4 linked regions of the Homo sapiens genome follow. The protein of the gene in region 1 interacts with the protein of each later gene in a biochemical or structural test. Each region holds a gene or a part of one and is shown on either strand. Other genes may lie near its edges.

Region 1 (7,000 bases):
GCTGGAAGGGGGGATCAACAGCGCCTTCCAGCGTCCCAGTAGCCTCCCCTGACGTCCTTCTGGGTCCTCCTCTGGGTGCAGAGCTCGGGCCTGGGGAAGACACACACTCACCCTCCACCCTGGCTCTTCCTTCTCCTCTCCTCAGAGCCTGCCCTCTGATGTTCTTGCTCAGCCCGTAAGAGCCCAGAATGGGGCTGCATGTTATCAGACATCAGCACTGAAGGAACCCCAGAGCCTCCAGCCCACCTCTTCCCCTTTGCCTCAGAGAGGGGCAGTGATGGCTCCAAGGTCACATGGCCAGTGACAGGCAGGACTTTAAGTGGAGTCCAAGGCTACTGTTGGCTACTGTCTCCCACTCCCACCTGCCTCTTCCTGGCACTCACAGGTCTTCTGGGCACACAGGAGATCTGGGGGGCCTCCCAACGACCGTTCTCTTGGCATCGGATCAGCGGCAGATTGCGCTGGGCCAGTCCTTCCCGGCACCGGTAGCGAAGCACAGTGTCCACCTCATAGCGCAGCCGTGGGCGGCCGAACACTTGAGCCAGGGGCAGCTCCGGTGGCGGCCCACAGGACACTGCAAAGGAAGACAGTTAGGAACTGAGCCTGGCTCTGTGGGTGACAGTTCCCAGAATCTCCATGGGGAAGAGAAAAATGGGCCACAACATGACAAAAAAAGATCAGGGATTCCGAGTGGACCCACGTAACTTGTTAGCTCTCCCATGGTCTGGAACACGTTCTGACTCCTCTATGTTGCTTTGCACTCTCTGTCTACAAACATCAGTCCCTCTGGTCCCCTAGCCCACCCCTCCACTTCCTTGCTGGGACCCTCCTTTGCCTGCCCTCACCCAGCCCCATCTTGCAGGTGTAGGACAGGTGGTAGTTGCAGGGCACGTCACTCCATTGTCCCTGATCATGCCACACCATGACCACGCAGTTCTCTCCAGACAGGAAGTAGCTGTCAGGCTGCCCAGGGTTCCAGTTCTCATAGAGCTGGGGGAACGGAGGAGGTGGTGAGGAGCTCCTACACCAGGAGCACCGGGAGAGGGCCTAGAGGATCTGGGGAGGAGGGCTGGTGAGCGGGGCCCCAGGAGAGGGAAGGTTAGGGCTAGGGGGTAGGGGATCTCCCGGGGAAGGGGAAAGGAGAGGGCAGGGACTTTAGGGGAGGGAGAATGGGAGCCAGAAGGGAAGAAAGAGGACACAACGAAGGGAGGAGAGCCCAGGGAGAAGAGGCACAGGGCACGAGAAAGGGAAGGAGGCCGGAAAAAGAAGGGGACAGGGTCGGGAGGGGTGGGGGTGGTAGGGAACAGAAGTGCTTAGAGGAAGTGAGCTAGACGGCGGGGTTCGACTGGGGCCTCTCACCAGGGGGACGCCATCCGACCACAAGAAGTCGCCTTCGATGGTCCTGTCGTTGAGTCCGATCCACTGGTACTCCCGGTACCGGTCTAGGGAGACGAAGGCGTGCAGTGAGCGCAGCCGCCAGCAGATGGCGGCCGTTCCCCGCTCCCGGGCGGTCTGCGGTGACTGCCTTGGAAACCCTTCCCCGCGATCCAGCACCCGCCCTTGTCGGGTTCTTCTACCCCAGCCTCTGCTCAAGGGCCAGATGGAAAGCAGGGGAATGGGGGTGGGAGAATAAGGAAGATATCAACCCAGGCTAGAAAAGGGGAGTTTTGGAAAAAGAGTCAAAACTTTCAACAAGATTGGAGTTGGAGTTGGAGGAGGCCGACGGAGGTCGGAGAGCAGGGAGGTTGGAGGGATTGGAGGCGGCCCCCTGCACGGCGGCCCGGCCCACACAGGCGCACTCTACTGCGCGAACCTCCACTCTCCGTTCCCGAAGGCCACTGCCTAAGCGTAGGGTGGGAAGGGAGAGAGAATGAGAAGGGGAGTGAACGAATGAGTGAGGGAATGCACGCTTGAGAAAACCAAGGAATAAGTGCATGGGTTAATGAGGAAGGCGGTTAGGCGAGTGAGAGAGAGTGAGAGCATATGGCAGGGGCCCCTCCCGCCCTGTCTCCCAGCCCACTGTTGATGAAGTCCTGTTCCTCGGGTGTGCTGATGCTGGCCAGATGCGCGCCGTACATCCGGCACTGGGTCTCTGCCTCCTCCCAGCTCCTTCGTGTGGAAAAGTGCTTGTAGCAGGCGCCCTGGAAGGCGTCCCAGCCGGGGTTGCAGAAGCGGAGGCCTGCGGCACATAAGGGCGGGCATCTTAGGGCCCCAAAACCCAGAGGGCCAGGTCCCCTGGAAGGGGCTGGTCTCCTTCCACTACCGCAGGCCGAGAGGGGCGGGACTAAGGGGGACAGGAGGGCGGTGCAAAAGAGCTAGTAGAGAATGAGGGGGTAGCAGGAGCCTGGAGGGGCTCTTGGGCAGGGGCGCTGGTGCCTTTTCTAAGAGACAGGAACCAGGGTGAGGGATGGAGTTCCGGCCTGGGTCTCCATCCTAACGAGCAGTGGCTCTCCTCTCCAGGAGAATGGAGCCTGTCATGTATTGACCACCGATTAAATGCCAGGAGTATGCTTTGCACTGGTCTCAAATGGACCCCCTATGAGAGGCATTGTGGTTTCACTTAGATAAGAAAATTGAGGGTAGGACTCAAAGAAGTTATGCAACTTGCCTAAAACAGGGACTCATTAATGACAAGGCCAAAACCAATGTTCTCCCTCCCCCCTCCAGAAGTAGCACGTTGTGGCAGGGTCCAGGCTTCAAACCTGCCCCCCGTCCCTCAACACTCACCAACATCGCACAGGTCCCCCCCATAGCCAGGCAGACATAGGCAGCGGACCCCTTCCTCCTCCTCCAAGCATGTCCCACCATTGTGGCAGGGGCTGGGGACACAGTCACCTGAGAGGGGGAAAGAAGTGAGGCGGGGGGAGCGAGGCAGCCGCACTCTGCAGCCTGAGCCCTCCAGGAGAGGGTGCAGAGGGTCCCCCAGCCCTGGTCTCTCTGTCCTGGAAGCTATAACAGCACCCTAAAAGTTCTCCCTAGAGCCTGTCTCTGGTCACAACCCAGCCCTGAGTTCTGGGTTTCTTTCCTCTTCCCGCTCCCGACTTCAGCATTGGCTCAGCCTTCCATTGTTATGGCCACCAGTGTGAGCCCAGCCCAAAAGGGGCTGGGGAGAAGAGGCTAGGAGAGCCCTGAGAACCCAGCCCCACAATGGAGAAAGATACTGGGCACAGAAAGTTATAGCTCTAAACTCTTATCTGGCTTCTGTGTGATATTGGGCAGGTCATTTTCCTTCTCTAGGCTTGGAGTTTAGTGCCACACCCCCTTGTCTTTGTGCCAGGTCCCAGCACAGTTCTGTATAGTCCAGGTGGAATGAATGGAAGTGAAGGAGGGGACAGAAGGATTACCGCAGCAACAGTGGAGGGTGGTATCCCTTGACTGCTCCTGAGACCTGATATTGGTGTGGTCCAGGTGAATACTAACCATTCCTCCTGCTGTCCACTGGGCAGTCAGCCAGTCCCAGAAGTGGTTAGTGGAGATCCAGCCCACTTTCCTCACTCTAGGCCCTGCCCCTTCTCCCCCAGCTTAGGAACTAAGTCGCAGCAGCTCCCATTGTCCTGCAGTGCTGACTGGCCTCACACATGCAGCTTTCTCTCAATATCACCCAACCTCTCACTTCCCCTTCTTATATCCACAGACTCTTCCACTTACCAGGCTCCCTCTCCCAACTCCACTTTGGGCCTTCTGCAGGTTCTCCAACCTAGAATCCATCTCAATCCCTCCTTCTGGCTCCCTCTCCTCCAGGCAGTCCTCTTAGACTAACACACTGCCCTGAAGGTCTGCAATCTGTTGCCTGGATCTAGCTCCATCTGGCTAGGCCATCTGCTTTACTGGACTTTTTCTCTCTGTATCCTGGGGTAGGAGGTGGCTGTCCTTAGGATGTGCTTGGGTGCTACAGGAGCTGTCAGTTTCCAATCCTTTCTGGTTCAGATGACCCAAAGGAAGATGGCTCCACAGACCAACTGTGTAGGTCATGGCCCTCAGCCATGGTAAGGTCAAGGCCCTCAGCCATGAGAGGCAAAACCACTCCAGGGCAGAACCCTTCAGACTTTACCATCCACCTCTAGAAGCCATGGCCAAGGTCCACAGTGCTTCCCGCTGGCCTGGCCACAGGTCCCACTGCCTGGTGGGAATCAGTAGGGGTGGAGAGAGGAGAAGCTGGAGTGGATTCAAAGAATTTTGCTGGGATGACCTAGCTGTTTTGGGTGAAATGAATCAGCTTTTCCAGCAGCACTCCTTCTGTCATCTTCCCTCCTGCCAATAGTTTCTTCCCAGCTTGTGGTGCTGCCCACCTCCCAACCCCAGAGGAAGAGGTATTTCATTTAACCCATTAAGCACCAGGCCCCACAGAGGGTAGAATTCTGAACTCCCCTCCCACTCCTCACACTTTCCTGTCCCTCCTGTTGTCCTTTCTGCTCCTTCCCATTCAACCCTCCAACCCTGGGGGACAGAGGCTCTCAAACTTGGTCTTTGGTCCCCTACCCAAGCCATAGGCCCCTCCCCCTGGCTGTGGGCTACAGAACCTGAACCCAGCGCAGGCAGAGTCGGGTGAAGAACTCTTCTTCTTGTCATTTTCCCTCTCCCTTTTTGGGGACAACTATTCTACACAACCAGAAAGTTTTCCCTTTCTTTCCATTGAAACAGCAGCCAAGGAGACCTCTCACTTACCCTCCCGGTGGGGAAACTAAGACACTGTAGATACCTCCAATTGTGCTCCTCTTCCCACCAAACCCCCTCCCTATCCCCCACAGGGCTGAACTCCAAGGCCAGTTGTGCAGGGACCTAACAGTTGACATGGGTAAGCCTGGGTGGGACTCAGGATGTGATCCATCTAACATGGGGGTCCTAGGGCTAAGGGAATCCCAGCCTTCTCCAGGAACCTCCACTGGGAATCTTAGCCTTCCTGAGTAGAGAGGGCTTCTCTCAGACCCCAGAACCTGATTCCTTCCTTCACACTCTCCATCACTTGCTTTTGATCAGTGTCTTCTCCAGCATTAGGTACTTTGAGACCCTTTGGGTCTGGGGAGGGTGAAGCCATTCCTTCTGGAGAGTAGGGAATGATCATTAGTGCAGGAGTTAGTGGAGAAGACGGAAGTTGTAGGTAGTGGGATGAGAGTTAGATACCACCCCCTGCTGAGATGCAGGGCTAGGGGATGGGGGTGAGGGCAACTGAATGCCAGGGAACTGCCTCTATGCTGAGAGACCCTCAGTTCCCTCAGTTACTATGACCCTTGGCACCACCAAGATGGATTGGAAGTGAATATAAATGCACAACACATGCACTCCGGGCTGCAGGGGTTTCTCCTCATCAGGAGTGAGGGACTACAACTCCCAGCACTGCCTCAGACTATGGATGATGACTTCTCCAGGGGTAATGTGTACAGTCAAATTTTGGGATCTTAGCAGCCAGGAAGGAAAGTGTAGACAGGCCTGAGAAGGAGAGGCTGGGGGAACAATGAGGGGCTGTTAGACTGCCAGGACAGACAAGGGGAGAAGCCGAAAATGAAAAAGGAAGAGAGGCCAAGACACACACAGAGACAGGGAGAGACATGGAGCCAGAGAAGAAGCATCCAAGTGCTCCCCATGACACAGACCCATGGAATGAGAGAGGTGGACAGCAGGAGATGGAGACAGAGGGTACCAGAGCTTGGTTACAAAGCGGTTTAATAGAGATTTATTTCCAAGGCTTGTTTTCCATGAAACAGTCAAAAAATACTTCACAGAAGTAGTTGCTTAAGGCTCTGTGGGGGTACGGGTTCTCCTGGACTCCGGAGGTTGAGGGGTGAGAAGGGACTCCCAGGCTTCCCTGAGATCAATAGGAGGCAGCTAAAGGGGACGGCACACAGGCGGATGAAGGGAGTAGTGGAAAATAGGCCGAGCCCTGAAGGCTGCAATAGGTGATGAGGACCCTTGGAGAGGCCTGAGGATGCTCTGTGGGGCTGGCGAGATGTGAGCCACAGGTGGAGGGCCCAATGGCAGGGAAGGGTCACAGATGGTCAGTGGCGGGGCTGGGATCACAGGGTAAAGACGCGGAGAGCTGAGATACCCACAAGGTGGATATCCGAGATTGGAGACCCATAGGTAGAGGTGGGTAAGAGAATGAAGGCAAAGGACAGGAGAGTTTGGGATGATGGTGGGTTAAAGGACTACAGGTCAGGTGACCCAGAGCTGCAGGGGGAAGAAAAGGAGTAGGATAGAGAGGGCAGTTGAGCCTTGGGCAGAATTACCTGATGCGGGGACCACGGCCACTCCACCTCGGCTGGCGCTGTCAGTGGGCAGCACTGGCTGGGCCTGCACTGAGGTCCCTGCTGGGGCAGTTCTTCCAGAATTATCTTCAGAGGGGGCCTCCAGCTCCCTGGTACCCTCAGGGGCCCGTGTGGCTGGAAGCAGGGAAGGGGCACCCTCGGAGCTTCCTGTCTCCTCGCTCTCTCCTCGAGGGACCCCAGATAGCTCAGGACCACCAGTTGCCTCCCCCACCTCTCTTGCCTCAACCAGAGTGGAAGGTGATGGGGATGCTAGGTTCCTCTCCCTGGGAGTGGGCAGAGTCTCAGTAGGTGGTCCATGGACCCTTGGAGGCCTGGAAGCTTCTGACTCTCCATCAGGAAGTGGTGATGCACCAGGCTGCAGGACTGCCCTTGCTGGCGCCTGGGAGAGTGACTCCTCCTGGGCTGCTGGCTCAGTGGGGAGAGAGGCCTCAGGGCCCGGGCTGCTGAGCTCGCTGGGCCATGCCCACAGAGCCTCATCCTCCACCTCCTCCTCTTCTTCTTCCTCCTCTTTCTCTTCTTCATCTTCATATTTCTCTTCTTCCTCCAATGCCTTACCTTCCTCTTCTGAGAACCCCGTGGGCGGTACCATGGATTGTGTTTCAAATTCTAGGCAAAGCACAAACGGTTCAGCACCAGGGACAGCGTCTGTCCAAGGACCGAAAGGAAAAAGGGAAGGGGAGAAAAGTAGGGCTCAGGAGGGTGAGCCCTGGGGAATAGGGAAGAGACCGCCCTGAGGA
Region 2 (7,794 bases), on another chromosome or scaffold:
CAAAACTAACCTGTAGGTGACCACTTTGGAAGTCCATTTTGGGCTATTTGGAAATAGTGAGTATTCTGCAACATCTGGCACTCCACATCTGGGCTTCTGCATTATTTCTATGACGCGGGAGTTTAACATTCCAGTTATAGGTAGGCCAAAGAATTTTTGCATCTCCTTGAGTTTGGCTTCTAAACTGTTGGCATTTTTTGTTTCTGAGTCATAGAGATAAAATCTCTTGAGATAGTCCTATTGAAAAGAGAGTAATTAATCTATAGTTCTTGTTTATTATATTCTTTTATCTTAGAAGCCTATATATCTCTTGCCTTTGGTTCCTGTGAATTCAAATAATGATTTGAAGACAGAATAATTACATAGTCACAGAGAAAAATAAGTGTGCATTAGTGAGGAGAAAATTTAATATTGCTAATGAAGCACTGGCGTGCCATTTCGTGAGCAAAAGAAAAGAATCCCTCAATTTTTAAAAAATCCATTTAAATGTTTTGGGGAGAATTACACTGTACACTTTATAAAGCCTAGAAGTGTGTAAGAGCAATCAGGAAGCATGTACCAGTCTGTCCTCAGGGGTACGACTGGGACATTCTCTGTGTTATCATAGACCCTGTGGGGGAGATCTGAGGTCAACCAGCCCTATCTAAAGTCCAGCTGAGATGCGGTTCCAGCTAAAAGTTAAAGGGTCTTAAAATTTTAGCTCTGGGAAAAGATATTAGGAAATTATTAAATAGTTCAATTTAATAATCCGGTGAAGGAACCAAAGCTTATAGCAACTAAATGATTTATGTGCCCAGGTTCACACCTTAAATTAGTAGCAGAACTGGACTTGACTTTCCTGACTCCTAGGTCCTCTTTTCCCTCTTTCTGCTCATTCCATTCCCAGCCCTTCTTTCTGCTGTTAAATCTCTAGTCAAACCCACTTTGGGAGATTGCAGTATACAGTAGGACTCCCAGGTTTATTCCATGCAAGGTTGGATTCCTGGGAATTTCTCTAAAGTTTCTCAGTATCTGAATATGAGGATAGGAATCCAGCAGCACAAATACAACAACAACAAAAGTGAATGAACTAACAACAATAGCAACCTCACAGGAACATTTTTAAGCACTTACTAGAGCCAGGCACTTACATATTTATTTTATGTAAACCTCATAACCACTCTATGAAACAAGTATGGCATTGTTATCCCTATTTTATACATGAAGAAACACAGCTCAGAGAAGTGAAATAAATTGCACAAGATCACCTTGTGAGTAACTGAAGGAACCAGTATTTGAACTCAAGTGTTCTGACTTCTATACATTAGAAACATGTGTAGGGTTATATGATGCCTGATAATATTGTTGTTAAAATGATTTAAACATTGGCTCACTAATTTGCAGTTTATTTGGAGTAGATGGTAATGGTTACCTGTCTTAGGACCGCCCAGGAATATGCAATTTATGTAAGAAATCTTATTAATATTGTGTCTTTTTTTCCTGTTACCAACAATTGTCTCATTAAATACAACAAATACTTATTGTTCATCCATGACAATTGATAACTGATCCTTTATTTAAAAACAAATAACCCATTTAATCCCTTCTAGAGCTACAGACTTTACCAAGACACCCTCTGGAAGAAATCTCTCTGCTTTGTTGAGATGACTTTTCCTGTTTTTTTGTTAAACCTAGCTAACATCCCTCCAAGTGAAGACTAAGTTTCTGCCAACCTTCACTCTAAGTAAAGAAACTAAACGCAGAGTACTCTTTCTGGAGAATTCATTAGGTGGAACCATATAAAACTACTGTTTTGGAGATTTTAAAAGTTAAATACTAGTAACTTTATGTGGTTCAATCTAACTTATTATAACTGGAACTTTTTAAAAGTCTAAGTTAATGTGAATTAAAAATTGACTTTTCTTATGCTTAAGGCCTAAATTTACAAATAATAGTTATAAGTAATCATCCCATTAGTTAACCAAATAATAATTAGTAGACTGCTTATATTTATTAGACTGCTTATTAAGAAGCATATTGCAAGGAACATGATTTTTGAACCAGAAGCACTTGTCCTTGATTTCTATCTCTACCACTAATAAGTACACTAATCAGTTTAACTTTGGTTTCCTCTTTTTATAGAACTAAGGATTAAATGACACAATGTCTATATAAGTACTTTATAATCTACAATTGTTACATACATGCTAGTTGGTTTTGTTATCACCTCATTTACTTACTAGAATACCCCATGAGGTATAAAACACATAATATTATTTTTTCTACTGGACACATGAGAAAACAAAGTCAGATGTTAATGCCTTGTCTATTGTCATTGACTTGTTGGAGAGTTGTAATTTCTACCCATGTTTTCTGACTTCAGATATCTCCATTACAAACAGTATTGTAAATACACAAACAGTATATTTACAGGTTGTATCTTAAGAGGCAATATTCTGTATACTATAGAAAAAGAATCTCAAGTTATAATAAATAAAAATAAGAACTTAATTTAAACAATGTTTCAGGTATTGTGTTGAATGCTTCACAACACCCTCATTTGGTTGATACCATTCTTATCTCCAACTTCCAAATTGGAAACCTGAAGCTTAGAGAAGTTTGATGACCTTCCTGAGTCTATCTACATAGTGAGTGGAGGGTTGGAACTCAAGCCCGATTTGAGCAGATTCTGAAACCTGCTTTTAATGGCTACTTGATGAAAACATATATTGCTTTTATAATCCGAAGAACCACCCCAAAGAAAATTCCACTGCAATGCTAACATGGGAAGGGAAATAATTGAAAAACACATTTCTTAATGCAGATGGCAAAAGAATGGAACCCTAAGTAAGTGGGCTGTGACATACCTGAGCCTGTTCCCACTGTAGCTCACTCATGCCTCCCGCCTCCTGAGGCAGCGGCAGGGCCAGGCTGCCAGGCAGCAGGCACACAGCACACAGCACGGTGAGTCGCATAGCTGCCGTCCAGAGACAATTGTTCTTGGACCTATGGTTGATTTGGTGTTTTCTGCTAGTGACTGCAGAAATTTATATAGCTTCTCAGCCTCGAATGTGGAAATAGGTGACTCATTTGAGTGTTTTCTTTCTTTTTAGAGTCTACAGAACTTTGAAAGTATGTGTTATTTTTCATTAACTAAAACGAGGAAGTATTACATCGTTATTGGCAGGAAGCACACAATGTATTTGTCTTTCAAAGGATTTTTTTTTCTGTCTGCTGCATAAATTGACTCCATGAGAAACCTCATTTTTTTGCCAAAGTCAAATGACTGCTCTCATAGGTATCATTCAGGACATTATGGTACCATATATTCTTAAAGAATAATATATATTCTTAAATATATATTCTTATTATATGGTACCATGTATTCTTAAATACATGGTACCATATATTCTTAACAATTAAAAGGTTTGGAAAAGTGCACAAAACATGTAAATAATGAAATAATAATTAAGCAAATACTGTAACCGTCACCAAAGTCAAGAAATAGAACATCACCAAAATCCTGTGGTTCTCCATACAGGGGAAAGATGGCAGGAGGCAGATGGAAATGCTGCTGTGTGGCTGGATTAGTGGCCACTCTATATACAACTGTGCTGTGTCCCCTCACCTTCCACGTCCCTTAGCAGAGCAGTGATAATTCCCTTCTTTGGGTCTCCTTTTAATCAGTTTATGTCTTTTCTTAATGGGGAACACTGCCTCTAATTCTTCTTGAATTAAACACAAAAAAATACCAAGCCAACAAAAATCTACAAGCACGGGTTTAACTCTTCATCTGGCTTACTTATTCTGCTTCTCATTTTATAGTAACAGATTCTTCCAAGGCTAGACCTTCAACTTGGAGATCCAATTTTTTTCTTCCAATCACTCTGACTCTGGCTGCTGCCCAGCTACAGGTAGGGCTGCATTGGTCCTTAGTACACAAAATGGTTATTCTACGTATAGCAGTAAGAATCCATTACCTACAGATTCTAGCCCAATGACTCCATTCTTACCAAAAATGAAAGTGAGGCCAAGATGATAATTTAACTTATTATACTTCTCCCAGCTCACACAGATAGTAGCTCAGTGCTTTTTCTATCCCACTGCACTGCCTATTCATTTTGTAATAGGTCTGTCTCTTTTATTATATTATACATTACTTGGGAGAACACCATGGCTTTTGACTCTAATACATCATGGGAAACACTCCAAATATGCTGGAGCTAAAAAATTTAATTAATCACATATCACTTCAATTACATGGTAATTGAGCACTGTGAGCCAGCAAAGGTAAAATTTTCAGATCAGTTAATTAAATTTGCTCTCTTTACAGAGATGTCTTGATTCTGTACGGTCACAGTTTAACTAGAGTAATTGGTATCCTTAGTCAGAGTTTGACATGTGATAAGGTGCACCATAAATATTTGTAGAATAATGAATATTTATGAACTTTACTTGAATAAGCTAAAAATGGAATTATATCACGTTTTTGGTAATATTTGCATTGAATTAAAATCAAAAGGCATTTCCTCAAGTGAATGAGCACACAAGCCACAAATTGGGTGAAAATGAATGCAAAGACACATCCATGGCCAGGCGCGGTGGCTCACGCCTGTAATCCTAGGACTTTGGAAAGCTGAGGCCAGTGGATTGCCTGAGGTCAGGAGTTTGAGACAAGCCTGGGAAACATGGCAAAACCCTGTTTCTAATAAAAATACAACAATTAGCCAAACATGGTGATGCGTGCCTGTAGTCCTAGCTACTCAGGAGGCTGAGGCACGAGAACTGCTTGAACCTCAGAGGCAGAGGTTGCAGTGAGCTGAGATCACTCCACTGCACTCCAGCCTGGGTGACAGAGGGAGACTCTCTCTCTCTCTCAAAAAAAAAAAAAAAAAAAAAAAGACATATCCAATAAAGGACTGTTATCCAAAATATACAAGTATCTTTTAAAACTCAACAATAAAAACACAAACAATCTGATTTTAAAGATGGGCCAAAAACCTTAACAGTCATCTTACCAAAAAAGATATACAGATAGTGAATAAGCATATGAAAATATTCTTCACATCATATGTCATTGGGGAAATGCAAATCAAAACAGTAATGAGATACCACTACTTACCAATTAGAAAGGCCAAAATCCAGAACGCTGACAGTGGCAATTGCAGGATGTTTTAGTGGAAATGAAAAATGGTACAGCCACCTTGGAAGACAGTTTGATGGTTTCTTTCAAAATGAAACATACTTTTACAATATGATTCAGCAATGGTGCTCCTTGGTGTTTACCTAAAGGAGATAAAAATAAATGTTTACACAAAAACATACATATAGATGTTTATAGTAGCTTTATCCATAATTGCCCAAACTTGGAAACAACCAAGATGTCGTTCAGTAGGTGAATGAATACATGTACTGCGGGACATCCAGGCAATGAAATATTATTCAGTGCTAAAAAGAAATGAGCTGTGAAACCATGAATAAACATGGAAGAATCTTAAATGCATGTTATTAAGTGAAAGAAGCAATCTGCGGGGCTACTTAGTGTATGATTCGAACTATGTAACATTCTGGAAAAGGCAAAAATAGGTAAAAATATCAGTAGTTGTGTGGGCTGGACGTGGGATAGGCAGGATGAATAGGCAAAGCACAGAGAATTTCTGGGGCAGTGCATCTACTCTGTACAATACTGTAATGGTGGATTCATGTCATTTTGCATTTGTCCAAACACATAGAATGTACAACATCAAGAGTGAACACAAATGCAATGGACTTTGGGTGATTATGATGTGTCAGTGTAGGTTCATCAATTGTAACAAATATAGGCTGGGCACGGTGGCTCACGCCTGTAATCCCTGCACTTTGGGAGGCCGGGGCAGGCGGATCACCTGAGGTCAGGAGTTTGAGGCCAGTCTGGCCAACATGGTGAAACCCTGTCTCTACTAAAAGTACAAAAATCATCCAGGTGTTGTGGCAGGTGCGTGTAATCCCAGCTGCTCAGGAGGCTGAGGCAGGAGAATCACCTGAACCCAGGAGGTGGAGATTGGAGTGAGCCGAGATCACGCCACTGCACTCTAGCCTGGGCAATACAGTGAGACTCTGTCTCAAAAAAACAAAACAAAACAAAAAAAATACACACACACACAGAAACAAATGTACCTCTCTGGTGAGGGATGTTGATAATGGGGGAGGCTATGCATGTGTGGGGGCAGGAGGTATATGGGACATCTCCGTACTTTCCTTTCAATTTTGCTGTGAACTTAAAACTGCTTTAAAAAAATAAAGTCTTAAAAAAGGTATTTTCTAGATTTTGTATTTTACATTTCTGTTTACTTTTAGCAATTCAAAGAGCATTAGAAATTACAAACACTTTAAATTAATTTTAGTGACTTCCTTCAATATTCACTCTTGAATAAGGAGAAAGAAATCTCTTGTTCATCTAAATTGTAATTAGGAAAAAAGACCCAGTGGAATCAAGTCCCAGTTCCAGCCTTTAGAAGCTCGTGCTCTAGGGTGGCAATATCGGGAGGTAAATACTTTTAAAACAAAATGACACTCGCTTATAATATGCAAAGCTACCAAAGAGAAGGGAACAGTTAATCCTTCTTGTGGGAACTGAGGAGTAATCCATACAAGAGGTGGCATTTTGGCTGGATTTTGGAGGGTAAATAGGAGTTCCCTTGGAAAAGGGCATTCCAGGAAGAAGACATGGGAAAAGAGCATGGATACAGTAGAGCGAGCAGTCAATGTGGCTGTGGTCCGGGATGGTGAGTGGTTGGAAAAGCAGGTGGGGGTCAAGTTGTTGAGAGCGAGCCTCGTGTGCCAGGGAGTTTGGACTTTATCCCAAGGGCATCAGGGAATGTTTTAAAGGAAGAAAGCAGCATGATGAGATTTGAAATGCTGTAAGAAAATGCTACTGGTGGTTGTAAAGACAGATTGTGGAAGATGAGATGATGCCCTCTAGAGGGATACTGGAGAGGCAGATAGACCAAGCAAAAAGTTATGACAATAATCCAGGTGAGACAGGGGGAAGATGAGTCCCTAAACTAAGATTGTGACCATAGTGATGAAAAAGAGGAAGGAAATCCAAGACGTATGTAGAAGGTAGGATTGATAAAAACAAAACAAAACAAAACCAAAACTGGGGAGATGATTGGCTGCAGGAATGAGAAGAAAATCAAGGATGATCTGAGCCTAATAGACTTGGTGGGTGGTCAAGCTGTTAATATGGAAACATGGCTTATAGGAAAAGAAACTAGGAGTTGATTTTGTGAGGGAAACAGATGTGGTCGTGGGAAAGTAAAGACATCATGGACATCCTGGACATCGGGTTCAAGGTTTCAGCTGGAAATTGGGTCTGGAGCTAATGAGAGTGATCTGGTCCATAGGTTATGAGTGACTTATTTTTAAGGAAGGAAACTATGTTTTCTTAACTGGTAAAATATACATCATATAAAATTTACCACTTTAACCATTTTAAGTGTACAATTGAGTTTCATTAAGTACATTTACAACGTTATATAATTATCACCAATATCCATTTCGAGAGCTATTTTGCCATCCCAAAGAGAAACTCTGTATCCATTAACGAATAGCTCTCTTCTCCCCTCTCCCTCCAGACTAGTAATCTCTACTCTGCTCTGTCTCTATCAATCTGACTATTCCAGGTACATCCTATAAATGTCAACATACAATAGTTGTCCTTTTGTGTATGGATTATTTCACTTAGCACAATGTTTTCAAGATTTACTCATGTTGTAGTAGCATTTATCAGAATTTCACTCTTTTTTAATGGCTACATAATATTCCATTGTATGG
Region 3 (7,676 bases), on another chromosome or scaffold:
CTAGTGATATTCAAAATTGTGGAAAATATAGATGAAATTTTATAAACTCCCATGATCAGCATGATGTGAAAAAGAATACACAGGTATAAAGAAATTAGAGGAAATACATAGTTAATACTGTTAGTAGTGTTTTTCTTTTTGGGTCATGACTATAAAAGATTTATTTTCTTCTTTGTACTTTTTTATATATTCTAAATTTTCTATAATAAACATTTAACGTTTTATTTAAGTATGTAAAATTTATTTAAAATGTTTTGTAGAAACTAGTGTATTAGTTTGTTTTCACACTGCTGATAAAGACATACCAGAGACTGGAAAGAAAAAGAGGTTTAATATGGACTTACAGTTTCACGTGGCTGGGAAAGCCTCACAATCATGGCAGAAGGTAAGGAGGAGCAAGTCATGTCTTACGTGGAAGGCAGCAGGCAAAAAAAGTGCTTGTGCAGGGAAACTACCATTTTTAAAACCATCAGATCTCATGAGACTCATTCACTATCATGAGAACAGCGCAGGGAAGACCCACCCCCATAATTCAATCACCTCCCACTGGGTTCTTCCCACGACATGTGGGAATTGTTGGAGTTACAATTCAAGATGAGATTTGGTTGGGGACACAGCCAGACCATATCACATGGCTTTCCACCAACAATGGAATAAGCTCTAAGCACCTTAGCTACAGACTAATGGTCTTCTATGACTGGACTCCAACCTATCTTTTCACAACTTTATTTTTTATTTTCCATTATTACCCTTCACATACCTTTTATTTCAATAAAAAGTAACTCTTTGACGTTTTCCATATAGAGTCTTTCTTGACTCTGCATACTTGTATACTCTGTTACTGAATTTTCCTCCATTTCCACCCTTGTTCTTAGCCAAAAGGCCAAGAAGCAATTTTCCTCCATTTCCAGATCATTCCAGGCTCACTTTATCTGCTACTTTATCTATGAGTTTTTTCTAAAGGAAACACCTAAAGTAAGCAAGCACCTTCTGCTTAATTCGTGTACAACTTTTTACTTTTTTTTTTTTTTGAGACAGGGTCTTGCTCTCTTGCCCAGGCTGGAGTGCAGTGGCACCATCACAGCTCACTTCCAGGGCTCAAGTGATCCTCCTGCCTCAGCTTCCCAAATAGCTGGGACTACAGGTGTGCACTGCCACAAGTGGCTAATTATTTTTATTTTTTCGTGGAGCTGAGGTCTCCCTATGTTGCCTAGGTGGGTCTTCAACTTCTGGGCTCAAGCAGTCCTCCTATCTCAGTCTCCCAAAGTGCTGAGGTTATAGGCAGGAGCCACCATACCAGGCTTATTTCTTATAGAATTAATTATATAGGGGATTCTTTCCTTGGCTAGGTTATATTCTCTCCTTCCCTCCTTCCCTCCCTCCCTCCCTCCTTCCCTCCCTCCCTCCCTCTTTTCCTTCCTTCCTTCCTTTCTTCCTTCCTTCCTTTCTTCCTTCCTCTACCTTCTTCCCTTCCTTCCTTCCTATACCTCCTTCCCTTCCTTCCTTTCTTCTTTCTTTCCTGCTTTTAAACAGCTAGTTTGTTCACTTTTTTTTTTTTACTAAAATTTTCTAAACTTTATCTCCAAATCTATACTCTTAGTTTGGGTATTCTGAAGCCCTTGAGACTCAGATACTTGATAAATGAATGTATAGCTGAAATAATGATTATATCAGTTATCAGCTAGAGGTAGCAAGGATCCTGCACAATCATGTCTGATTAGTCATGGAGAAGTGTGACAAATAGGAAGACAAATGTGAAAAGTTACGAGATAGAATGTTACCTGGGATCACTGCCAGTTTTTAAATCCAAGGATTAGATTGAATGTAAATTTAATTCTAAGCCGCTGATCCCTGGGAGGTCAGATTTATAAAACTAGCCATTATCTGACCCTTGTATTTATTTAACCATATAACAAATGATTGTTCTGTGGAACAGTCATTTTGATTTCTTGCTGGAAATGCCCACTTTTTTTCCGCTAGTATTCAGTTCCTCCCTCTACACCTGGAGTGTTTGCTCTCCTCCTCCCCTCTCCTCATCTTCCTCCCCCTTTCTCTTCTCCCTCCTTCTCCCTCCGTTCCTTCTTACACTCAGTTGCTCTTTAATTTTACCTATTCCTTCTCATTACTGCATTGATTTTTAAAACATACTCTACAAAATGCAATTTGACTGTCTCATGCACGGTTAGAAAACTTCTGGTTCTACAAGATTAGTTTGAGTGTTCTGCAGACATATGAATGAGGACTTCAATTATATATTAGAGAGATTTTAGATGATAGCTTGATCTTTTCTTGTGGAAATACAACTTCTAAAAAATTTAGTTTTTAGAGTATTTAGTATATATGACATGTAGAATCTGCAAATCTAGAAATGTCTGCATGATTTTTGGATTTTTTGACTTTTAATTTACCTGTTTGACATTTGCTATGAGCCTTTCACTCATAACTAATATATTATTTAGTTCTCTAAGTAATTTTTGGTTACCTACTATATATCAGATACCATGCTAAGTACTAGGAATACAGAATCAAATGAGGCATGGTCCATACCCTCAAGTAGCTTACATTAGAATGAGAGAGACAGATAAACCATTTCACTACAGTTCAGTGTGGAAAATAGAGTAGCAGAGGCAGGTACAAGGTACCATTGAACAATGATTAATGACTCTTCCTGGGACTTGGGAAACATCTTTCAGGGAAGTCGTCGAAGCTGTTTTAAAATATAGCAAACTTTTGTATTTAGTTCAGGAACAGCATGGCCCATTTTGCCAATCACATCTTAACAGTTGGAAAAGCAAACATATTATCTATCAGGCTTTCCTCTAAACTTTAAATATGTTTTATAAGTTATAACTCCAGAGAAAATTTACAAAGGATAAACCTTAATATAGAAGGAATTAGAGCTGCCACAGCTTCTACACTTTTAACCTCTCAATATTTTATCTGTTGGGCTCCACTGTTTCTTCCTGGAATTCACATCACTGCCACCACTCTGTTCTCCTTGTCCTCATATCAATGTGGCCAAATATTTTCCCTGTATTTCAATCAGGACAAGACATGGTTTTTCCCCCCATCAAAGGAATGGAGAACCATAGAATACTAGTTTTAAAATGTCTTTAGGCCAGGTGCCGTGACCCATGTCTGTAATCCTAGCACTTTGAGAGGTTGAGGCAGGAGAATCACTTGAGCCCAGAGCTCGAAACCAGCCTGGGCAACATAGTGAAACCTCTGTCTCTATTTTTTAAATAAAATTTGAAAAAGTCTTTAGACATAATCTAGTCTAAAAATGAAGGCTTAAATGTGATGTATAGCCCCCTGCCAAGTGGCTATCAACTGTGTGGGCATCTTCAGTCATAGGGATCTTATTGCCACAGAGAAATCCCTTTAAACTTATTGGGTAAAATCTCTCCAATGTTTATTAAGAAACACACAAAAAATAAAGCAAAGAAGAAAATGCAAAAGAGTTATAAATGAGAGGAAGCAAAATGGGCACTTATTAAAGGTCTAATAAATGCACATTTGTATCCATCATTCTACTGAGTTCTTACTCCCAAGATGTTCTTCCCTTTAGCAAACAAATAAGCAAGTCAGCAAAGAAAGAAAGAACAAACAAAATGTGGTGATCAGGGAAGCATTGAGGAGATGGATGGTGGCAGGTGGCAAGAGGACTATAAAAGTTTTACAAAATGTCTTCCTCTGAATATGTTTAGAGTCTTGCATTCAAGCATTTATTATACACCAATAATGTGAGCAACACTTTACTTGACAAAGAAACAGAAAAGAAAGGAAAGGAAGAAAACAGAAGAGCATGAAGAGAAAATTTAGGATGGATTCTGTTCTTCAACTTCAAAGCATCTGCTAATTTGAATTTAGGGAGGAGGGGAAAAGGTTGAAAGAGAATAAGACATGTGTAGAAGACAAGGACAGAGAGAATTTCAGTCCGGTAAGCAATGTAATTCATTTCAATTCTACAACTATTTATGGAGCAGCTACGTGGGCCCATCACCCATTAATAAATTGGTTACAGAATTAAAACCAACCCAAAGGGAATATACTTCCTTCTTTTTCACAGACCCTCTTTGTTCTATTCTGCCCATGAGGTTTTCCTCCTCAAGAACCAGCAAATCCAACGACAGTCAATAGCAGGCATTACAAATCAGATTCAGAAAAATAAATCACCCCTTCTAAATTTCTTCTAGATATTATCTTTTATGTTTTGAGTATAATTGTATATAGTATAGACTATAGCTATGTATGTACACTTTCCACTTACATCTTTTATTTGCTTTTATAATGTGTTTCTTAAAATAAAACTGCTTTTAGAAGTTCTGCACAATTCTGATTTTTACCAAGTCAACCTACTTCTTCTCTCAAAAGGACAAACATAAATTGTCTAGTGAATTCCAGTCAATTTTTCCAGAAGAAAAAAAATGCTCCAGTTTTCTCCTCTACCAAGACAGGAAGCACTTCCTGGAGATTAATCACTGTGTTGCCTTGCAAAATTGGGAAGGTTGAGAGAAATTAGTAAAGTAGGTTGTATCATCCTACTTTGAATTTGGAATGTTTGGAAATGGTCCTGCTGCCATTTGGATGAAAGCAAGGATGAGTCAAGCTGCGGGTGATCCAAACAAACACTGTCACTCTTTAAAAGCTGCGCTCCCGAGGTTGGACCTACAAGGAGGCAGGCAAGACAGCAAGGCATAGAGACAACATAGAGCTAAGTAAAGCCAGTGGAAATGAAGAGTCTTCCAATCCTACTGTTGCTGTGCGTGGCAGTTTGCTCAGCCTATCCATTGGATGGAGCTGCAAGGGGTGAGGACACCAGCATGAACCTTGTTCAGGTAATTAACACTAACTGACCTGGCCAGGTGGGGAGCTTCCAGAGTAAGCTGAAACCATTCTGTGTGTCTTAAAACCCACATAGAATGCTTGAGCTTACTGTGTAGGAACAGTTCAAGAATAGAGAGTTATAGAGTGTTGGAAGTGGAAAAGGTCTCATTATCACACCATTTGGGCTTCTCCTCTTATGTAGGAAGAAACAAAGGCCAGAAATATTAGGTGTTTTCTTAAGATCACACAACACCATAGCAGTAGCAGCACTGGGGCTTAAGGCACATGAGTAACAAGTGGAGAGTGGATGAACCATATCTTGCTTTGGAACAGCTTCAGTTTTTTTTTTAATGCAACGTAATTTTAGCTAAATATTTGTGTTGCTAGTATCATATTATAAAATTTGCCATTATTTCAGCAAGCTAGAGAAATACTCCAAATAGATTAAGAAGTGAGCAACTGCAAAAACTTACTATAAATAGATAGCTATAGTAAAAATTGTAAGAGTGACCTAAAAACTATACTTATTCTGTTAGAAATATCTAGAAAACTACTACGACCTCAAAAAAGATGTGAAACAGTTTGTTAGGAGAAAGGACAGTGGTCCTGTTGTTAAAAAAATCCGAGAAATGCAGAAGTTCCTTGGATTGGAGGTGACGGGGAAGCTGGACTCCGACACTCTGGAGGTGATGCGCAAGCCCAGGTGTGGAGTTCCTGATGTTGGTCACTTCAGAACCTTTCCTGGCATCCCGAAGTGGAGGAAAACCCACCTTACATACAGGTAATGGTTCAGAGGGGTTTTCACATAAGATTGGAATTTTATAAACTATATCATAGGAGAAAATAGCATCTGCTTCAATTTTTCTCCTACAGGATTGTGAATTATACACCAGATTTGCCAAAAGATGCTGTTGATTCTGCTGTTGAGAAAGCTCTGAAAGTCTGGGAAGAGGTGACTCCACTCACATTCTCCAGGCTGTATGAAGGAGAGGCTGATATAATGATCTCTTTTGCAGTTAGAGGTAAAAAAAAAAAAAAAAAAAAAAAAGCAAAACAAAACAAAACAAAAAACACATGAAATGTATCCATTCATCTATCTGGTGTTGTTGTACTGGAAAAGGCTCAAAAGGGATCCTTGTTACATATCTTTCCAATAAATTTTTTTCCTACTAGAACATGGAGACTTTTACCCTTTTGATGGACCTGGAAATGTTTTGGCCCATGCCTATGCCCCTGGGCCAGGGATTAATGGAGATGCCCACTTTGATGATGATGAACAATGGACAAAGGATACAACAGGTTAGTTACACATCTCTCAGAATGATTTTGGCATTAATTTTTTTATATGTAGAAATCTGTTAATAACCAAGAATGCTCAAGAAATGAGATGTTCTGGATTTTCCAGTGGATCAGAGATCAGCAGAATATATTTTTGTTTTAATTATTATTGAAAATATTTTCAGATGCTTTAACAGTTTTCCTATATTGGTAAGCACAATATAGGAAATATCATTAAGTATTTCTTTAATGACTGGATCTTTGTGATCTAGGGGTAACCATTATTAAGAAAAATTTCTCATATCAAAATACAAACATTCAAGGGATAGTATATTGCACTGAATCTACATTAAAATGTGCTCTGGATGTTACTTATGTAATTTCCTCCATTTACTTCTTTACTCTTCAAACCAGAAATAAGAATTAAATTTCAGAAACTGAGATTCTCTTTTTTTTTTTTTTCTGGCTGAGGCATTATTTTAGTACTTTTAGGTTAAAAGAATTTTTATGGGCTTGTTCTGAAGGAAAAGACTAACTCCCAAATACAACGTTCAAACTGTTTAGGTAGAAGAATGTTTCTCAGTTCATAACTGTATGTTTTGGGGAATGACATCCAAAGTTTTCAAAAAAATCAGCTAAAACAATTAACACTACTTCTAAAAAAATAGGAAAACAATTAATACTATGTCTGAGGTTTAACTGGGATTTATAATGAAAATGTAAACCTCTGTAGGACGTACAAATGTGAGTTTAGTCCTGGATAGAATTCTTGATTGGTTGAGTTAACGAATTCTTGTAAAGAAACCTTCCTGCAAACTCTCAAATGAGATTGTTCCTAGCATCACAAGTTACACAAGTAATACTAGCAAAAGTAAGGTAGATTTACTTACTATATTGATCATAATTACCCAATGCCTCCCAATTTTAGCATTATGGGTGTTTTTAAAAATATGAAGGAAAAAATTTTGAATAAAGCCAGTGTTTATGTATTCTAAATCTGTTGTGTGACAAATGCTAGACATGATTGGGCATACTGTGTTTTAAACCAATTTTGCAAATCCTATGACATCTATCATTATTCATGTTTTTAGTCTCAATATGTACTTCATGATGATGAGGCTGAGACATTATCAATTAACATGAATATAGTTTCCTTTAACTGAGACTGCAAATGGCAAATGTAAATATATTAAAACAGTGTTTAGCTTTGCATTGACAAATGAAGGTAAATATCTGATATGCTAAGCAAGTGGGTTCATTCCATTCCTGAGTACAAGAAAAGGGATCTGGTTCTTCTGGAGTTAATATGCTTGTGAGGCTGGGGGTGGGTTTGGGGCCATGGGGGGCAAGTGGATGTAACTGGGAAATCAATCTCAAAGATTGATTACAGGTATGAGTTTTAAAATACACTTAGCTTTCCATTAAGTGTGTAATTAGTCAATTGTTCAATTAACCAACAAACAAGGTGTAAAAAGCCCTGTGTGGTTCCAAGAAGTAAAAACCAATACAATGCACAGCAGACCTGTGTAATGCACATGTATTTAAAAAATAAGTAACTATTGTTCTCAATT
Region 4 (7,468 bases), on another chromosome or scaffold:
AGCTGAAATTGCGCCACTGCGCTCCAGCCTGGGAGACAGAGTGAGACTCTGTCTCAAAAAAAAAAAAAAAAAAAGAATGAGAGATAAAGAACAGTGTCAAGACATAAAAGAAAAAAAGCTGGGGAAGAACCAAGGTCCAAGCCAAGAGGTTGTTTTAAAACTTTTGTTATTACTATTATTTTAAATATATTTGGGGGGTACAAGTGCAGTTTTGTCACATGGATATATTGCATAGTGTTGAAGTCTGAGCTTTTAGTGTAACTCTCACTGGAACAGAAGACATTGTGCCCCCATTAGATAATTTCTCATCCCTCTTTTCCCTCCCACCCTCTTGAGTGCCCAGTGTCTATTATTCCACACAGTATATCCATGTGTACACATTATTTAGCTCCCACTTGTAAATCAGAACATGCAGTATTTGACTTTCTGTTTCTAAGTTATTTCACATAACGTAATGACCTCCACTTCCATCCATGTTACTGCTAAAGACATTACGTCATTCTTTTTATGGCTGCATAGTATTCCAAACAGTATGAGGATTTCTCAAAGACCAAAAAAATAGAACTACCATTCAACCCAGCAATCCCACTACTGGATATCCACCCAAAGGAAAAGAAATCATTATGTCAAAAAGATACCTGTACTTGTATGTTAATCGCAGCACTATTCACAATAGCAAAGATATGGAATGAAGCCAAGAAGTTTTTGATAAACATCCAAGTTGTAGTCATGAAGGTTTCTTCTGGCAGTTCTGAATAATCTCTTCCCACTTGTTAGCTTTTGATCGTGAGCTTATTATTCAATTTTTCTAATCTCAACTTTGTTGGGTTGTTCTGAAGTTTAAAAATAACTCACATTTAAGAACTGACTACAGTGGAAGCTCAATACCAGGCGTTTCACCTTTCTTTAAGTATGAGCTCTGTATGCTTCCTTGCCTGACCCTATACATACTTCAGTAGGTTTAACAAGTAATGAATTATATAAAGACAAACATAGGACTCACCTGCTCCAGGGCATTAATTTCTACCAGGTGTCATGGTTTAATGCAGGACAAGTTTAAACACTAACATCATTTCTGTGAGGCATGTGCTACCCTATAGGCTCCCAATTATAGTCGTAGCTATTACTACAATGTAAACTTTCATTGTATCATTACCACATAATAAAATCCATTAACAGGATGTGTCAACACTAATAAAGTTATGACTCAAGCGAAAATGGGCATCTCACAGCTTGTCAAATCAGGGCCTAGGGGCATTGTCACAGATTTGTCAGGCCAACAAGCTTTGTCTGTTAAAGGTGTTGGAGTGAAATAAGAAGAGATTTGTTCCCCAGCATAAAGCATACAAAATAACTTTGTGAGTGTGGTTATATCCACCCCATTTTACAGATGACAAAATAATGGCCTGAATTAATTACACACAGTCATGTGTGACTTAACAATGGGGACACATTCTAAGAAACATGTCCTTAGGCAATTTATCCATTGTGCAAACACCATGGATTAAACTTACACAAACCTCTATGGTACAGCCTACTACATGCCTAGACTATGTGGTATAGCCTTTTAAAAATTTCTTGGGGAAAGTTATCCTCCCATCTCAGCCTTCCAAGTAGCTGAGAGTAGAGGTGTCAGCCACCATGCCCAGCAAGCCTATTACTCCTAGGCTACAAACCTATACAGCATGAAATTCTACTGAATACTGGAGGCAATTGTAACATAATAATAAATATTACTGTATCTACACATATTTTAACATTAAAAAATACAATAAAAAGATGGTATTAAAGATAAAAAATGGTACAACTATATAGGGCACTAACCAGGAATGAAGCTTGCCAGACTGGAAGTTGCTCTAAGTGAGTCAGTGAGTGAGTGGTGAGTGAATCTGTACACTATGTAGACTTTATGAACATTGTATGCCTAGACTACACTAAATTTATAAAAGCATTTTTCTTTCATCAATATAAATTAACCTTAGCTTACTGTAGTAACTTTTTTACTTTATAAACTTTTTAATTTAAAACTTTTTTTGACTCTTTTGTAATAACACTTAGGTTAAACACAAACGTTTCACAGAGGTACAAAAATATTTTTTTCTTGATATCCTTATCCTATAAGCTTTCTACTATCTTTAATTTTTTTTATTTTTTAAACTATTTTTTGAGAATGAAGACACAAAACACGAATTAGCCCAGGCCTACACAGGATCAGGATCATCAATATCACTGTTTTCTACCTTCACATCAAGTTCCACTAGAAGGTCTTTCAGGGCAGTAACGCTGATGCAGCTGTCGTTTCCTATGATAATAATGCCTGCATAGGGCAGTAACCATGGAATGCCTTCTGAAGGACCTGCCTGAAGCAGTTTTACAGTTAACTTTTAAAAAAAAGGTACACTCTAAAATAAATGATAAAATGTATAGTAAATGCATAAACAGTCATTTATCACTATTATCAAGAATTATGTACTGTACACAATTGCATGTGCTAGACTTTCGTATGGCAGCACAGTAGGTTTGCTTACACCAGCATCATCACAAACACATGGGTAATGTATTGTACTATGACATTATGTTGGCTACAATGACAATAGCTGATGGGTGCTTATCAGCTCTGTATTAGTTTGTTCTTGCATTGCTATCAAAAATACCTGAGACTGGGTAACTTATAAAGAAAAGAGATTTAATTGGTTCACGGTTCTGCAGGCTATATGAGAACCATGGTGGCACCTTCTTCTGGGGAGGCCTCAGGAAACTTACAATCATGGCGGAAGGCAAAAGAGGAGCCTGCACTTTACATGGCCAGAGCAGGAGAAGAAAGAGAGGGGCTAGGTGCTACACACTTTTAAACATCCAGATCTCATGATAACTCACTCACTCACTATGACAAGAACATCACCGATGGGATGGTGCTAAATGGGCATGAGAAATCCGCCCCCGTGATCCAATCACCTCCCACCAGGCTTCACCTCCAACACTGGGAATGACAGTTCGACATGAGATTTGGGCAGGGACACAGATCCAAACCATATCAAGCTCCATTATAATCATATGGGACCACCATCATATATGTGGTCCATTGTTGACTGAAACATTATACAGTGCCTGACTGTACTTGCTCAATGTCCAGCTGACTTTATTTGAGTCTAGTTGTCAGTCCTTCTCCCTCTGATATTCAAGCTGATGTCACCACACTGTAGAGCAAACTCTTTGGCAACAGTAAGTCACAAGTTGACTTGGCTGGCTCAGTGTATATCCCAGTTTCTCTCCAACTCTGGCTTGGAAGTCTCAGAGCCTCTTGGTTCCTGGAAGTCTCACCTGTCCAGGCTACCTTAAGTAGGGTGGGGATGGTGGGCGATACTGAAAAGATCATTCCTACACACTTATTATTTTAATCTCTCATCACTTTGCAATTATGTACTTCAGACATGGTAGAGTTAATTTATCTTTAGTGAGAGAAAAATATAGTTCTTTACTATAAGAATTTCAGGGTTCTTTATATTAACAGGTTAATTTGACAAAACAGTTATTGCAGACTTACTGTGTTACTGCGTAAAAAGCACTTTATTTGGCTGAGAAAACAAGAAAGAAAATACTATTTGTGGGCAGGGGTGGATCGTTAGACATGTGAAAGAAAGGGAGGATTTGAAATCATTTCCCATTACAGATCTCAATCCATCTCCTCCTTTGTACCTTAAGAGGAGAAAGAAAGGGGGAAAAGAATTTTTAAAAGCAAAGAAGAGGAAGAGGGTAGGAGGACCATTTCAGTCTAACATGCAATTTAATTTTTTCCATTTAACAAGTTTTATGGAGCAGTTACTTTGAACATAATTATACACTGGGAAATGGAGAATGAGTGAACACCAAAGCTTCTCTCTTTGGATTCTTTTCTCTACATGCTCCATGTCCTTCTCACAATACCCCTACTCCACGGCCAGTAAATCCATCTGAAAATCAATAATAGCTATTGTAAACAAGGACTCAAGAAGTGAAATATTTGTTTTAATATCTTTGTAAATAACAACTCCCACATTTAGACCACGACTATATTTGGAATTTATTTCCGTTGACCTACTTAATTCTTACCTGCTTATATTTAAGTTTAAAACATAATCTTCTTAAAAGAAAATTGCACTGATTTTAAAATGTCAAAACATTTGGCATTTTACCAAGCTTGTCAGCTCTCTTTAAGTAAATACAGAGACGTGAATTATCTAGCCAATTCTTTTTCGTCTTTACAAACACAGAAATCATTTCCTGGGGATTAATCATTCTTTCAAGTTTAGAAAGTTGAAGGAAAATACTGATGTAGGCTGTATCACCATTACATTAAATGTTTGTGAACATTCAGACTTAAAAAACACATGCATGAATCATACTGTTGGTGATCTCAGCATTGTCTCTGTATAAAAGAAAGGCCACTAGGGGGTAGAGCTAGAAGCCCAGTAGACAAAGAAGGTAAGGGCAGTGAGAATGATGCATCTTGCATTCCTTGTGCTGTTGTGTCTGCCAGTCTGCTCTGCCTATCCTCTGAGTGGGGCAGCAAAAGAGGAGGACTCCAACAAGGATCTTGCCCAGGTAATTAACGGTGGCATCTATTGCAGCTACTGGCCAGCTCAATTGTGTCTACTTGGTCTTCCAATACAAAGCAGAATGATTAGACTAGAGATCACTTTGTTAGAAAACTGTAGCATCAGAGAATAATTAACAGGCTGGAGGTGGAAATTATTTTTATGTTAACAGAGAAGAAAAGAAAGGTTCAGAAAGGGAATATAACTGCTCAAGGTTACAATAAAATAGTAGCAGTATATTTGTGGCTAAGTGAAAAGAACATATGGAGAATATATGAAACTCCTCTGGCTTTAGAATTTATTTAGTTAAAATTATTGGGGAGGGGAGCATGCTAAGTTTGATCTTTAAATCATATCAGGTAATAGTTTTCATATTTTTACTTGTCATATTTGGACAAAAGAGTTTACCACACTTCAGTCTTAAACCAGGTCTATAATAACAATGTAAGTAGAAAAGGTTAGTATTCTAACTTTTCACAAAACTATGTTAAAAGAGGGTTTCTTTAAAAACTAACAAAAATAATGCTAGACTTGAATTTTCAATCCCCAATTCCTTACTTGACTAGCAAACTAACATTGCAATAAAATTTAAAAATTTGTATGAAATGGGGAGTCTTAATGAAAAATCAAATTAAATGTGATAGCCTCTTTTGTTTTAAGAAACTAGAGGAAAATTACGATGGATTATAAAAGTTGGATAAATGATGGAAAATCACAAAAATGCCCTAAAAATTCTATTTTCCATTAGCAATACCTAGAAAAGTACTACAACCTCGAAAAGGATGTGAAACAGTTTAGAAGAAAGGACAGTAATCTCATTGTTAAAAAAATCCAAGGAATGCAGAAGTTCCTTGGGTTGGAGGTGACAGGGAAGCTAGACACTGACACTCTGGAGGTGATGCGCAAGCCCAGGTGTGGAGTTCCTGACGTTGGTCACTTCAGCTCCTTTCCTGGCATGCCGAAGTGGAGGAAAACCCACCTTACATACAGGTAATGGTTCAGATTAGTTTTCACATAATATTGAAACCTTATAAGTTACTCGTCATATTTGGATAAGTAACATAAAGTTTTCTTTAACAATTTTTCATAAAGGCAGGAGAAAATAACATCCTCTTCAATTTTTCTCCTCCAGGATTGTGAATTATACACCAGATTTGCCAAGAGATGCTGTTGATTCTGCCATTGAGAAAGCTCTGAAAGTCTGGGAAGAGGTGACTCCACTCACATTCTCCAGGCTGTATGAAGGAGAGGCTGATATAATGATCTCTTTTGCAGTTAAAGGTAATCAAATAAAGCATCCATTTATCTGGTGTATTCATCTGTTCAGACTGCTATAGCAAGTTACCTTAGACTGGGTAATTTATAAACAACAGAAATTTATTGCTCACAATTCTGGAGGCTGGGAAGTCCAAGATTAAGGTGCCAGCAGATTTAGTGTCTGATGAGAGCCTATTCCTCATAGATGGTACCTTCTGTGTCCTCACACGATAGAAAGGGCCAGGAGGTTCCCTCAAGCTTCTTTCATAAAAGCACTAATCTCATTCATGAGGGCAGAGCACTTACGACATAATCACTTCCTAAAGACCTAACCTCTTAATACTATATTTCATTGGGCATTGAGTTTCAACATATGAATTTGCAGCAGACACCAACATTCAGACTATAGAATCTACTGTTGTTTAATTGGAACAGGGTAAAAAGAAATTCTGAACACTTATATTTCCATTAATTTGTTCCCTATCAGAACATGGAGACTTTTACTCTTTTGATGGCCCAGGACACAGTTTGGCTCATGCCTACCCACCTGGACCTGGGCTTTATGGAGATATTCACTTTGATGATGATGAAAAATGGACAGAAGATGCATCAGGTGGGTCGTAAACCTCTCGGGAACATTTCAGGAATAATGTCCAATCCTACCCAAAAATAATTGGATTATCTAGAACGAGCAATAAATCGAATATACTAGTAACTGAATTTTTTTATTACCTGAGTTTTAAACAGAAGTACTGTTTGTTTCAATCATTATTGAAGAATTTTATAAAATGTCTGTATTTTCATGTTTGCCCCCACCAAGTACAATATTGTAAAAACCATTCAACCTCATCTCCACAACTCAGGATCTTGTGGGGGTTTGAGGATCAGCATAATTAATAATGTTTTTCATCACTTTAATGATAGATGATTAGGATAGAATGAATTCCATTAAACCAGTTCCAATCCTAACATTTGCCCTCAGGTTTTCTTTCTTTCTTCTCATTGGCCTCCTTTTTACTTAAAAGTAGAGATCAGGAGAAAATGCCAGGAACTGAAAAAAAACTGTTAGGTCATCTTTTCGAATAAACATGTCACTGTCTCTAGCTTAGATGGGTTTTTTTCGCCCTAAATTGGCTTGGAAACACTTTACATCTAAACATAATGACTAAAATTAACTGTATGCTATTTAATTTTTAAAATGGCTTCTGAAGTTTAGAAACACACTGTTGAAATAATCACTATTTCTGACAGTGCCTGGGATTTTTAATGTAAATGCAAAGAACATCTTTCCTGAGTACAAGACTCAGGAGGCTGAGGCACGAGAATCACTGAACCCAGGAGATGGAGGCTGCAGTGAGCCGAGATTGTACCACTGTACTCCAGCCTGGGCAACAGAGTGAGACTCTGTCTCACGAGACTGAAGTTTGTGTTGCATGAAATGATTGCCTTTTATTTGAACAACTGTTCTTTTCTGCACAATTCTTGGAGCCTTGGTTAAATAATATCTACTACTAAATTCAATAAAACCCTTTTTATAATATTTTTAAAAAGCTGAATCTAGCTGTGTTTGTGCTGCAGAAAACTGTTATTGGGCATGTTTCTGTTTTAAACTAAAGATTGTACACATCCAATGGCAC

The links.
Region 2: of the proteins of BCAN (region 1) and MMP7, one has a biochemical effect on the other in vitro, tested with the Homo sapiens proteins (one study listed by BioGRID).
Region 3: of the proteins of BCAN (region 1) and MMP3, one has a biochemical effect on the other in vitro, tested with the Homo sapiens proteins (one study listed by BioGRID).
Region 4: of the proteins of BCAN (region 1) and MMP10, one has a biochemical effect on the other in vitro, tested with the Homo sapiens proteins (one study listed by BioGRID).

Annotation. Positions count from the first base shown.
Region 1 is NC_000001.11:156,652,117-156,659,116, reverse strand, and holds part of BCAN (brevican core protein isoform 1 precursor), read right to left. Parts: intron 6,870-7,000; coding exon 6,225-6,869; coding exon of another isoform or gene 6,151-6,224; exon of another isoform or gene 5,645-6,150; intron 2,836-5,644; coding exon 2,728-2,835; intron 2,180-2,727; coding exon 2,021-2,179; intron 1,443-2,020; coding exon 1,360-1,442; intron 991-1,359; coding exon 846-990; intron 575-845; coding exon 384-574; intron 91-383; coding exon 1-90. UniProt on the Homo sapiens protein: May play a role in the terminally differentiating and the adult nervous system during postnatal development. Could stabilize interactions between hyaluronan (HA) and brain proteoglycans.
Region 2 is NC_000011.10:102,527,747-102,535,540, forward strand, and holds the start of MMP7 (matrilysin preproprotein), read right to left. Parts: upstream 3,002-7,794; 5' UTR 2,955-3,001; coding exon 2,847-2,954; intron 238-2,846; coding exon 11-237; intron 1-10. UniProt on the Homo sapiens protein: Degrades casein, gelatins of types I, III, IV, and V, and fibronectin. Activates procollagenase.
Region 3 is NC_000011.10:102,840,604-102,848,279, reverse strand, and holds the start of MMP3 (stromelysin-1 preproprotein), read left to right. Parts: upstream 1-4,670; 5' UTR 4,671-4,733; coding exon 4,734-4,838; intron 4,839-5,363; coding exon 5,364-5,608; intron 5,609-5,700; coding exon 5,701-5,849; intron 5,850-6,000; coding exon 6,001-6,126; intron 6,127-7,676. UniProt on the Homo sapiens protein: Metalloproteinase with a rather broad substrate specificity that can degrade fibronectin, laminin, gelatins of type I, III, IV, and V; collagens III, IV, X, and IX, and cartilage proteoglycans.
Region 4 is NC_000011.10:102,777,600-102,785,067, reverse strand, and holds the start of MMP10 (stromelysin-2 preproprotein), read left to right. Parts: upstream 1-4,439; 5' UTR 4,440-4,476; coding exon 4,477-4,581; intron 4,582-5,322; coding exon 5,323-5,564; intron 5,565-5,706; coding exon 5,707-5,855; intron 5,856-6,318; coding exon 6,319-6,444; intron 6,445-7,468. UniProt on the Homo sapiens protein: Can degrade fibronectin, gelatins of type I, III, IV, and V; weakly collagens III, IV, and V. Activates procollagenase.